Linked DNA regions of Homo sapiens. The protein of the gene in region 2 purifies or fractionates together with the protein of the main gene of each other region. This does not show direct contact. Each region holds a gene or a part of one and is shown on either strand. Other genes may lie near its edges. The genes, in order: FAIM, SEPHS1 and MCFD2.

Region 1 (3,652 bases), on a different chromosome or scaffold from region 2:
TGAGCTTCCATTTCCTCAGGGGCAAATGAAGATGATACCACCTTTCCCATAGGCTGTTATAAGGGTTAGAAATAATTATATAAAGTGCCTAGTATAGTATCTGGCACATAATATGACCTTAGTAAATCATAATGTTTTGTTATTCAAAGCTTTTTTGTGGCCTTGCTCTAATTTCTCAATATAAAATTTAGCAAGTCATATAATATTGTTATTTGAAACTTGCCACATAACATACAAGAGTGAATTTTACCAGGAGACTCTAGATAAGCCCATTCTTTGCCCATGAGTAGTAATAATCACCACAAATAATATTTTTAAATTATTATCAATTTTTTTTTTTTTTGAGACAGAGTCTTGCTTGGTCACCCAGGCTGGAGTGCAGTGGCGCAATCTCAGCTCACTGCAACCTCCGCCTCCCAGGCTCAAGCAATTCTCCTGCCTCAGCCTCCCGAGTAGCTGGGATTACAGGTGCCCACCACCACGCCCAGCTAATTTTTGTATTTTTAGTAGAGATGGGGTTTCACCATGTTGGTCAGGCTGGTCTCGAACTCCTGACCTCAAGTGATCCACCTGCCTTGGCCTCCCACAGTGCTGGGATTACAGGTGTGAGCTACCATGCCCAGCCAAATTATTAAAATTTTGAGGCAGGGTCTCACTCTGTCATCCATGCTGGAATGCAGTGGTGCAATTTAGCTCACTGCAACCTTGAACCCCTAGGCTCAAGTGATCCTCTCGCCTCAGCCTCCCAAGTAGTTGGGACTACAGGCATGTGCCACTACACTTAGCTAATTTTTAAATATTTTGAAGAGATGAGGTCTCCCTATGTTGCCCAGGCTGGTCTTGAACTCCTGGGCTCAAGCGATCCTCCCACTTCAGCCTCCCAAAGTGCTGGGATTACAGGTGTGAGCCACTGCACCTGGCTGACAAATAATATTTTTAAAGAATTCACAATGTGAGAAACACTGTTAAGTACTTTACATGTACTAAATCAATTAAACTTCACTCATATCACAACTCTGTGAGGGAGTTACATTATCCCCATTTTACAGATGAGGAAACCAAGGTTCAGAGGTTAAGTAATTTGCCCATCACACAGCTCTGATCCTGGAGCCTGCATTCTTCATAACTAATCTGTAAAATGTAGGCTGTAGTCAGCATAGTCCAAAGTTTGATGGATCTTGGAAGCAGAAGTGCAAGCAATATCAATAACATATGCAATTTTGCCTTTACCTCAGTAAACAACTCTGGTCCCTTATCCCTTCCAAACAGCAAAAGGGACAAGTTGGGGCTGAACTCTGTCTCATTTCCAGGCTCATGAGGGATTGCAAATGGATAAAGAAGAGTAAAGGCAGACAAGGAGTAAAAGCAGAAAAATATATTTTTTAAAGACCCGAGATAATTCACAAGTAGATAAGCAGGCCCCTGGACATTTAAAAGAGAACTAACTGTATGCTAGGCATAGCTCAGGCAGTCTCTTCCATTTCACCTAGGAAAAGTTAATATCAATTGTATTACAAGTTGGCAAAGCAGCTGATTAAGTACCTAAAATTAATTTAAAGGCCTGGTTTCATCATCTGTTAAAGTCCCATATGTTTAAGTGTGTTGACACTAATCATAATCCTTTTAAAAACTAAAATTTCCATTATTAATGAGATCCAGTGGTTCTAAAACTTTATTGCAGGTTGAGTAACTATATTCCTAAACATATCACTATGAAATTTGGAAATATAAGGGATAAGATGAGCTCCCAAAACCTTCTGGAAAGAAAAAAATGAGATTCAGATTGGCACAAAACTTTTCATTTAAAACAATGGAGAATAGAAGCTACTGGAATAAGGGTTTCAAAAATTCTGAGAGAAAGTGAGTTTGAAATTAAAACTCTGTACTGAACAAAACTATCAACTTAGCATGAGGATCAAAGTAATGTTTATTTCTTAGACACCCTTTATCAGGAGATTACCTAAGGAATATATTCCAGTAAACAAAGATGAAAGCAGGAGTTGTGGGGTTCAATAACTGGAAGAACAAAAGGGTTCCATGAAAGAAAGCCTAGGGTGGCCACAAAGCAGCAGACTTGGATACTTAGAACAGGAGGGCAACAGACTTCCAAGAATATTGTTGTTAAGAATGAAAAGAAGGGTGGGCACAGCTGCTCACACCTGTAATCCCAGCACTTTTGGAGGCTGAGGCAGGAGGATCACTTGAGCCCAGGAGCTCTAGATTAGCCTGGCCAACATGGCAAGACCCTGTCTCTACAAAAAATTTTTTTAAAGTTAGCCTGGCATGGTGACATGGACCTGTGGTCCCAGCTACTCGGGAGGCTGAGGCTGGAGGATCACTTGAGCCCAGGAGGACAAGGCTGCAGTGAGCCATGTTCATGCACACCACTGCATTCCAGCCTGGGCGACAAAGTGAGACTCTGTCTCAAAAACATAAAAGAATGAAAAGAATTCCAAGCAATAGAGAACACGAGTAAAACTGCTAAAAGACATAGGAATATGGGCAAAGAAAAGATATATATCTGCTTCCCATAAGAAAAGAGAAACCCAAACAGAAAAGCCTAGAAAAACAAACAAAAAAAACTCTTCAAAAAGTCCTAGACTTTGATAATTTTGATCTGATGCAGTCCTAAGCCTATTGTTATCTAGGAAAATATTGCTTTCTTACTGATAAATCCTAAATTTCCAACTGCCTTTAAGATATATTTATAAAGAGAAATACCAAATAATACCAAAATCTACATCAATATTACTTTTTTTTTTTTTTTTGAGATGGAGTCTTGCTTTTTTTGAGACTGGAATGCAGTGGTGCGATCTCGGCTCATTGCAATCTCCGCCTCCTGGATTCAAGTGATTTCCCCTGCCTCAGCCTCCCGAGTAGCTGGGATTACAGGCATGTGCCACTATGTCCTGCTAATTTTTGTATTTTTAGTAGGGACGGGGTTTCACCATGTTGGCCAGGCTGGTCTCAAACTCCTGACCTCAGGTGATCCACCCGCCTCAGCCTACCAAAGTGCTGGGATTACAAGCATGAGTCACTGCGCCTGGCAATATTACATTTTTTTAAAACCTAAATTTATAATCCTCAAATCCATCACTATAAAACCTGGCTTAAGATATCTTATATATAAAATGGTGGATTAAATGAATGCTTCATTTACTCAGGACACATTAGAAATACACCTGCTGGACAATATACACACCTGCTAGACAATCCCAAGCAGATAGGAAACAAAAAATTTTTTTAATGTTTCTAAACAAATGAAATACACCTGCACTTACACTCCCTCTTCTTTTCAAACCTCCATAGAAGGTCTGAATACAGTTACAGGAATTAAACAGACATTATAAAAAAAAAAAAAAAGTTCTGCGGAAACAGCACTAACTTACCCAAAACAATTCTAAAGTTCTCACCATCCATGTGTAATACCCAAGTATTGGTGGTTTTTGATCTGTCCTCCATATACTTCTTGAGACTTTTCCCATTAATTTCCAGAGTATATTCATAAGCAAAACCACTGATAGCGTCTATATTTATGGTCGCTTTTGTCTTTGCAGCTCCAACATAGAATGTTTCTTTGCCCACTAATTTGAACATCCACTCTTTTCTTATCTCTTCCTACATAATAAAACAGAAAAATATGAAACAAATG
Region 2 (3,652 bases):
AATTCTTCCTCTTGGGATCATAAGACTTACACGGACCTCTAAGTACCCAACATTTTCTCTTTATAAATATCAATCTTCACAAATATTATTTCCTTAAGTACATACTCCACTTAGCTCCCTCCTCTCAATAGGCCTGCCACTGAGGAAAACACCAGCTCTCACGGCACAGGCTACACTGAAGTTCAGTCATCGTTATTTAAAAAAAAAAAAAAAAAAAAGCTCAACAGTAGGTTTATCTCACTAGAGGTTTCCAACACACTTTATTTTGCAGACCACTGGTTTGTAGCTTTTGAGGACCAACATCTCTATCAATTCCTATAAAATGTCCAATCACTTTCAGTTCCGTAGCAGGCTCTTCCATACTGCACACCATGCTTATGGCTGGAGGTCCAGTTACACATGCATGAAGGCTGCCCTGCCCACTGGTTCCTGGAGGAGGGCGCGTCCGAGTTAAAGCCTCTTCCAGGAGCTTGAACTTCCCAGGGGTCATTTCCTTTGGCAAGAAGTCAGTTTACATGTGCAGCTTTGGTGCCTGTGAGCAGAAAGCACCAGAAATGGGCAGGATGTGCTGCTTTTTCTCTCACGAAGATGGGCACTTGAGGATCCAGCGCCCTTGTGCTTAATGACAGGAATCCCTCCTCATTGCTTAGTAGGTTAAAATATAAGGAAGCCTCCACTTTACATAACACAGAGAACACCTTTTTAGATTGCCTATTTATTCTAGAACTACAAAATTTAATTCAAGAAAATATAGGTCCCATGAAAGACTTAAAAGTTTTATAAAACTAAAATCTAGTTTTTCCCGATAAATTGTACTTTAGGCAAAACCCTCCCAACGCTTCTAAAATAATACTAAAAGGGGCATCTGATTATACAAGAGCAATTTAAAAAATTAAATATTTATTTGAATAACAAGTTTAAGTTCGAGCTGCAATGTTGGCAATGCAGGTTTTTAACACAGATCACAAAAAGCGTGCACAAAAAAGTACTGGCGCAAAGGACAAAATAATGCTAAGAATTAGGCCAAACAGCTGCTGATTTTAAGAAAACAAAAGGCCTGAAATCACTGTACAAAATAGAAAATGTATTAAACACTACCATCCACAGAACAGTCTTTACTATTGATTATATTTAAAAATTATTTGTGTAATTATATATTGAATTGTAAATGAGTATTATACATGAACCTCCATTCGGAAGGCAATTCCTTGTAGCACTATAGAACATCTAATAACATTGCAAAAAGTATCCTTTTTTGCTATCGATAAAACAGTTAATGGTATTACTGTAAATATCAGGAAGGCTACAAAAAAAGAAATAAGATTTCTTTTTTGTCTTCAAAGTGTTTTCCATGCAATGAAGCACTTGCTGTGTTGAACTGAATGCACTACTGGAGAATGTTCTGGGTCCGAGATGCTCTTGAGAGACAAGACTAGGCTTTTCAAATCAAACACTCAAAGGAATCATGCAACCCTCTTATGACTGGGATACCGTCATGTGCCACTTACCAATGCTGTCTCTCCAGAAAACCATTCAAGACGCTTAAAAAAAAAAATCAGACTTATATGATAAATATACATAAAATGAAGACACCAACTGCTATTTGACACGACTACGGGTAATGCCTGTGCTATGTGAAAGCACCTTTAAAAAGCCTATGCGGCAAGAGATAAGTGTCTAAAGATTCAAAATGAATCAACAGTATTGGATAACAATATAATTCTCAACTCAGAAGCTGCCTCAAGATTAGGTGCATCTTCAGTTAATGTAACAGGAAAAAAAGGCAATGGATTTTATTTTATTAATTGTATCCACTTACAAACCGACCTAAGGTCACCCCGATGTGTAGACACAATGAGATTTTTGTTGTTTATAGTCTTTAATTGAAGTGATAAGGGAAATAGATCTATTTAAAAACAAAACCAAACAGCTATTTCTGTCTAGATTAAGAGGTGGCCCCGGGTGTGGGATTCACATTTTGAGTGGCCACTTGTGGTGCGACCTCGATGATCCGGGGTTTGTCTATGATTCTGGCTGTGCGGTTGCCCTTCTCTACAATCCCAATAATCCATGCTTGGTGGCCTTCACCATATTTGGGGGACTTTATCTCTGCACAGAACCGAGCTGCTTGCTCACGTGGTAAACAGATCAGAAGGCCGCCTGGCAAAAGAAAACAAGAATGACTGTTAGTGTTGACATGACAGCAGCTTCTCTGCCTCTGCTGCTTCTGCAGAGATCCAACTTCCATCAACAACTTGCTGCCACCTATATGCAAGTAGCTCTTCCCATTCAACTAAGCAGCTTTTTTTTGAGACAGGGTCTCACTCTGTGGCCCAAGCTGGAGTGCAGTGGTACAATCACAGCTCACTGCAGCCTCAATGTCCTGGCTCAGGTGACCCTCCCACTTCAGCTTTCCCAGTAGCTGTGATTACAAGTGTGCACCACCACACCTGGCTAATTTTCTGTAGAGACAAGGTTTCACTGTGTTGTCCAGGCTGGTCTAAAACTCCTGGACTCAAGCAATCCACCTGCCTTGGCCTCCCAAAGTGCTGAGATTACAGGAATGAACCACCACTCCCAGCCTAAGAGGCCTGTTCTATGCTGTAATTAAGCAATTGCTAGTAAACTCCTAACACACACACATATACACTCCAACTTTCAACTGTGAAAATGACCTATTCGTGAACCACATAACACTGTGTAGGGGTAAGGTGTTTGGGGCTTCAATAACCCATGTGGTAGCTATTTTTTCCAAGCTACACTGAAACAAATATTGACAAACAAAAGGGAACTTTTGATTCTCTACATCGACTCTCTCATTTTACCGAGAATGCTTTTTTGTATTTTTAGAAAATTTAAGACTCATGAAACAGTGTATGCCCCAAAGTATCTAGGTTCCAGTCATGACTCTGTCATTATATCCAAAAGACAAACAGTATAAAATACATTAAAATAAACCTTTGTTGCTCTTTCCAGTAAATAGGCCATAAATTTTTTTTTTTTTTGAGACGGAGTCTCGCTGTCTCCCAGGTTGGATTGCAGTGGTGTGATCTCGGCTCACTGCAAGCTCCACCTCCCGGGTTCACACCATTCTCCTGCCTCAGCCTCCTGAGTAGCTGGGACTACAGGCGCCCGCCACCACACCCGGCTAATTTTTTGTATTTTTAGTAGAGACAGGGTTTCACCGTGTTAGCCAGGATGGTCTCGATCTCCTGACCTCGTGATCCACCCGCCTTGGCCTCCCAAAGTGCTGGGATTACAGGCGTGAGCCACTGCACCGGGCCAAAATTTATTTCTCTAAGTAGAAATAAGATGATGAGGAAAAACTGTAGTCTACTTCTACAAAATGTAAAAACCTTGTGGCTGGGCATGGTGGGTCACACGTGTAATCCCAGCACTTTGGGAGGCCGAGGCGGGTGGATCACCTGAGGTCAGGAGGTAGTTCAAGACCAGCCTGGCCAACATGGTAAAACCTCGTCTCTAAATTAGCTGGGCATGATGGCACAGCCCTGTAATCCCAGCTACTCGGGCTGAGGCAAGAGAATCGCTTGAACCGGGGAGGGGGAGGTTGCAGTGAGCTGAGATCGCGCCATTGCACTCCAGCCTGGGTGACAAGAGGAAAACTCCATCATAAAATTAAAAACTTCCTATT
Region 3 (3,652 bases), on a different chromosome or scaffold from region 2:
AGAGAGAATATGTATTATTGAGTCAATTTATCATAATCCAGTTTAGAAATTACATTTGCCAGTTAAAAGAAGGCCCTTCAAAATAGGCTTTTGCTTATTTGTTTCATTATGGCTCATTCTTCTTTAATTGGAAAAGTGCCAGTCCTCCTGAGGGTCAGCTCTGTGCACAAATTTGCCTGATAAAATAGAAACAGTGACGAATTGGACAACAAGTTGGCATCAAAACAAGAGGAAGAAGGCACTGCCGATGAGCAGAACCTGTTATGATCTTTGAGGAGAAAGTATTTCCCATGCTCCAAGAGCAGGGTTAGTGGGCTGAGGCTGTTCACATCCTTGGCTGGTTCTTCCTTTGCCACATCTCCCACATTCACCATTCCCTCTCCTGTCACCACCACTATCCTCATCTGCCAGGACTGCTGACCCCTAATTCCTCCGCCTAACACTAGTCTCTCCTCATGTCCTTCAGTCTGTCTCCCACAACCAAGGATCTTCCCTAAACAATGCCATTCTCCTGTGCAAAATCATTCATGCTCCCTGCTGCCTTCAAACCTCACCTGCACTCCTAGCAGCGAATGTAATCCCACTCACCTGGCTAACTTTGCCTTGCTTCCTCTCTATAGAGGGCAGTGTGGCAGAAGGGGAATGACATTAAATGTGGAGGCACGAGGATTTTTTTTTTTTTTTTTTTTTTTTTTTTGAGACAGGGTCTGACTCTGTCACCCAGGCTGGAGTCCAGTAGCACGATCACAGCTCACTGCAGCCTCGACCTCCCAGGCTCAGGTGTTCCTCCCCACTACCCTCCCACCCCGTCACCCCAGCAGCTGGGATTACAGGCAAGCATCACTATGTCCAGCTAATTTTTGTAGAGACGGGATATCACCATGCTGCCCAGGTTGGTCTTGAACTCCTGGGCTCAAGCGATCCTCCTGCCTCAACCTCCCAAAGTGCTGGGATAATAGGCATGAGCCACTGTGCTTAGCCTGGCACAAGATCTTGATTTCAGTGTCTTCACCTAGAAAATGGGAGGGTTTTGTTTGTTTTTTGTTTTCTGAGACAGGATCTCGCTCTATTGCCCAGGCTGGAATTCAGTGGCAACATCGCAGCTTGCCACAGCCTCAACCTCTCAGGTTCAAGTGATCCTCCTACTTCAGCATCATGAGTAGCTGGGACTACAGGCATGCACCACTGAAAATGGAAGTATTAACAATGCCTGCCACTGCCTACTCAAGATGTTGCAAAGATCCAACGAGATCTCTAACCTACTTGAAAGGGCTTCAGAAACTTTGGAGCACCATACAGTATCACACAAGCCCTCAATTACTGCCACGTCCCTGAATCCCTTGGTGTCAATTCACCATTAAACAACTTCTCCCTTGCTCTGCAGTTTGAATACGGTCTGTCTTTTAGGCACTGATTCTCATACTCTGGTGTGTAACAGAAATGCCTGTAGCACTTAAAGATACAAATGCCCAGCCCTGGGACTTCTGCCTCAGCAAGTTATCCTTTGCGGGAAGGATCGTTGGACAGAAAGAGGCAGAACACAGAAGAGAAAGAAGCAGCAGCACCTTTTTTTTTCTTTTCTTTTTTTCTCTTTTTGAGACAAGGCCTCACTCTGTTGCCCAGGCTGAAGTGCGGTGGCATGATTATGGCTCACTATAGCCTCGACATCCTGGACTCAAGCAATCCTCCCACCTTAGCCTCCTGAGTACGTAGAACTACGGGCATGCACTACCAGGCCTGGCTAATTTTTTAATTTTTGTTTTGTTTGTTTTGTAGAGACAGGGTCTCACTATATTGCCAAGGCTGGTCTTGAACTCCTGGCTCAAGTGATCCTTCCACTTTGGCCTCCCAAAGTGCTGGGATTACAGATGCGAGCCATCATGCCCAGTGGAGAAGCAGCACTCTTGGCACATAAGGACAACACAAGTCAACAAGACTGGGGACCAAATTAACAAAGGGAAGCCTTTCTGTGATACAGTCCCCCAAGCCACTGCCAGACCTACCTCCTTATGGACATGAGTGATGGCTGTGGAGAGTTCTAAGCCATCAAGCAAATTATTGCCATCATAATCATGCATTTTGAAGTAATGGAGCTGCAATTCTTGTGGCGACATCTCCGCCTCTGGTTTGTTGATGACACCTTCTAGATGCTCCATGATATGCCTAAAAATCAACAGTCAGGTTCAGGCCAATTGACAGATACTGGGATCATGCTGAAATCTTAAGGACTCTGAAAAGTTCAAGATCTTAAACTTCCTCCAGCTCAGAAAAACAAACACCAGCAGTGGCAGACCACACTCAAGGATTACACAGAGATAGACAAGGCCTTGAGAGGAGCAGGAAAAGTCAAATAGACCATCTGTTATGCTGGCAGGATTAGGGTATTCTTTCCTCTTTATTATTAGAATTTTGTTATAACATTTTCAGGCCATCAATTTAAAAATATGTCCTTTAAAACTTTTTTTTTTTTTTGAGACAGGGTCTCACTCTGCCACCCAGGCTGGAGTGCAGGAGCGTGATCTTGGCTCATTGTAGCCTCAACTTCCCAAGCTCAGTTGATTCTCCCACTTCAGCCCCCCAAGTAGCTGGGACCATAGGCATGTACTGCCACATCCAGCTAATTTTTTGCAATTTTTTAGTAGAGACAGGTTTTCCCTATATTGCCTAGGCTGGTCTCGAATTCCTGGGCTCAAGTAATCCACCTGCCTCAGCCTCCCAAAGCACTGGGATTACAGGTGTGAGCCACTGCACCCAGCCTTAAAAACAAAGGATAACCGAGTATAATGCGTGAGGCTAACTGGCCCAAGACAAAAGCTGCAACAAATGATTCAATGTTTGAATGTGTTGATTTAAAAAAGGTCTTGTTATAGTCAAGAAACCTTAGCTATTTTCTGGATTCTGCTACTATGACTGTGTATGTGTACCTGTGTGTCTATTTGTATGTGTGTGTGTCTGTCTGTGGTGAAAAAAAGGAGAGACCGGATTCAGACAAGTAATGTGCCCCATTTGGGCCTAAAGATCTTCCACCTGTGATACAATGATGAAAAAAGAATACCTGACTTATAGGTGGCAATAAGGAATAAGAATCATCCTTGAAGAATGTCAAGGAGCCATAGAAACAGGAAGAAGGAAAGGAGGACTGAGCATGCCCTTGCCGCTGGCTCAGCTGCAGATGATGGGGAGGCCACTGGACCACAGCCCGGGCTGAATACGTACTCTTGGTCGTGCACTGTGTTCTTATCCAGGCCCATGCTGCCGGGTTGGGAGAAGCTGGCTGCAGGCTCCTCAGCCCTGGCGCCTGGGGCACAAAAGGCCCAGAGCAGGCCACACAGGAAGGGGGTTCTGAGCAGGGATCTCATGGTCATCAATATCTGTGAGATGGGAAACACAGAAGAGGAAGGCAGAGCATCAGAGCAAAGGTTTCGTTCAGGGCTTGACATGGTATGATCCTGGGAAACCTGATGAAGCAGTAAGGTTAGGAAGAGAGCTTGTCAAACACGGCCCAATGCCAGCTCTGCTTTGAGACTGTGGGATGACCCTGGGCACTCCAAGTCACTCAAATGGCAGGGGAAGGCTCACGAGGTTTCCTGAAGTGCCTGCAGAGTGCCAAGCAACACGTGAAAGCTTGAAGGGACTGGAAGATTATTCTTGC

Evidence for each region.
Region 1: the proteins of SEPHS1 (region 2) and FAIM fractionate together in Homo sapiens (co-fractionation; one large-scale study listed by BioGRID). This does not show direct contact.
Region 3: the proteins of SEPHS1 (region 2) and MCFD2 fractionate together in Homo sapiens (co-fractionation; one large-scale study listed by BioGRID). This does not show direct contact.

Annotation. Positions count from the first base shown.
Region 1 is NC_000003.12:138,622,154-138,625,805, reverse strand, and holds part of FAIM (fas apoptotic inhibitory molecule 1), read right to left. Parts: intron 3,619-3,652; coding exon 3,390-3,618; intron 1-3,389. UniProt on the Homo sapiens protein: Plays a role as an inducible effector molecule that mediates Fas resistance produced by surface Ig engagement in B cells.
Region 2 is NC_000010.11:13,317,197-13,320,848, forward strand, and holds the end of SEPHS1 (selenide, water dikinase 1), read right to left. Parts: intron 2,161-3,652; coding exon 1,946-2,160; 3' UTR 232-1,945; downstream 1-231. UniProt on the Homo sapiens protein: Synthesizes selenophosphate from selenide and ATP.
Region 3 is NC_000002.12:46,905,807-46,909,458, forward strand, and holds part of MCFD2 (multiple coagulation factor deficiency protein 2 isoform A precursor), read right to left. Parts: intron 3,372-3,652; 5' UTR 3,366-3,371; coding exon 3,217-3,365; intron 2,873-3,216; exon of another isoform or gene 2,164-2,872; coding exon 2,004-2,163; exon of another isoform or gene 1,078-2,003; intron 1-1,077. UniProt on the Homo sapiens protein: The MCFD2-LMAN1 complex forms a specific cargo receptor for the ER-to-Golgi transport of selected proteins. Plays a role in the secretion of coagulation factors.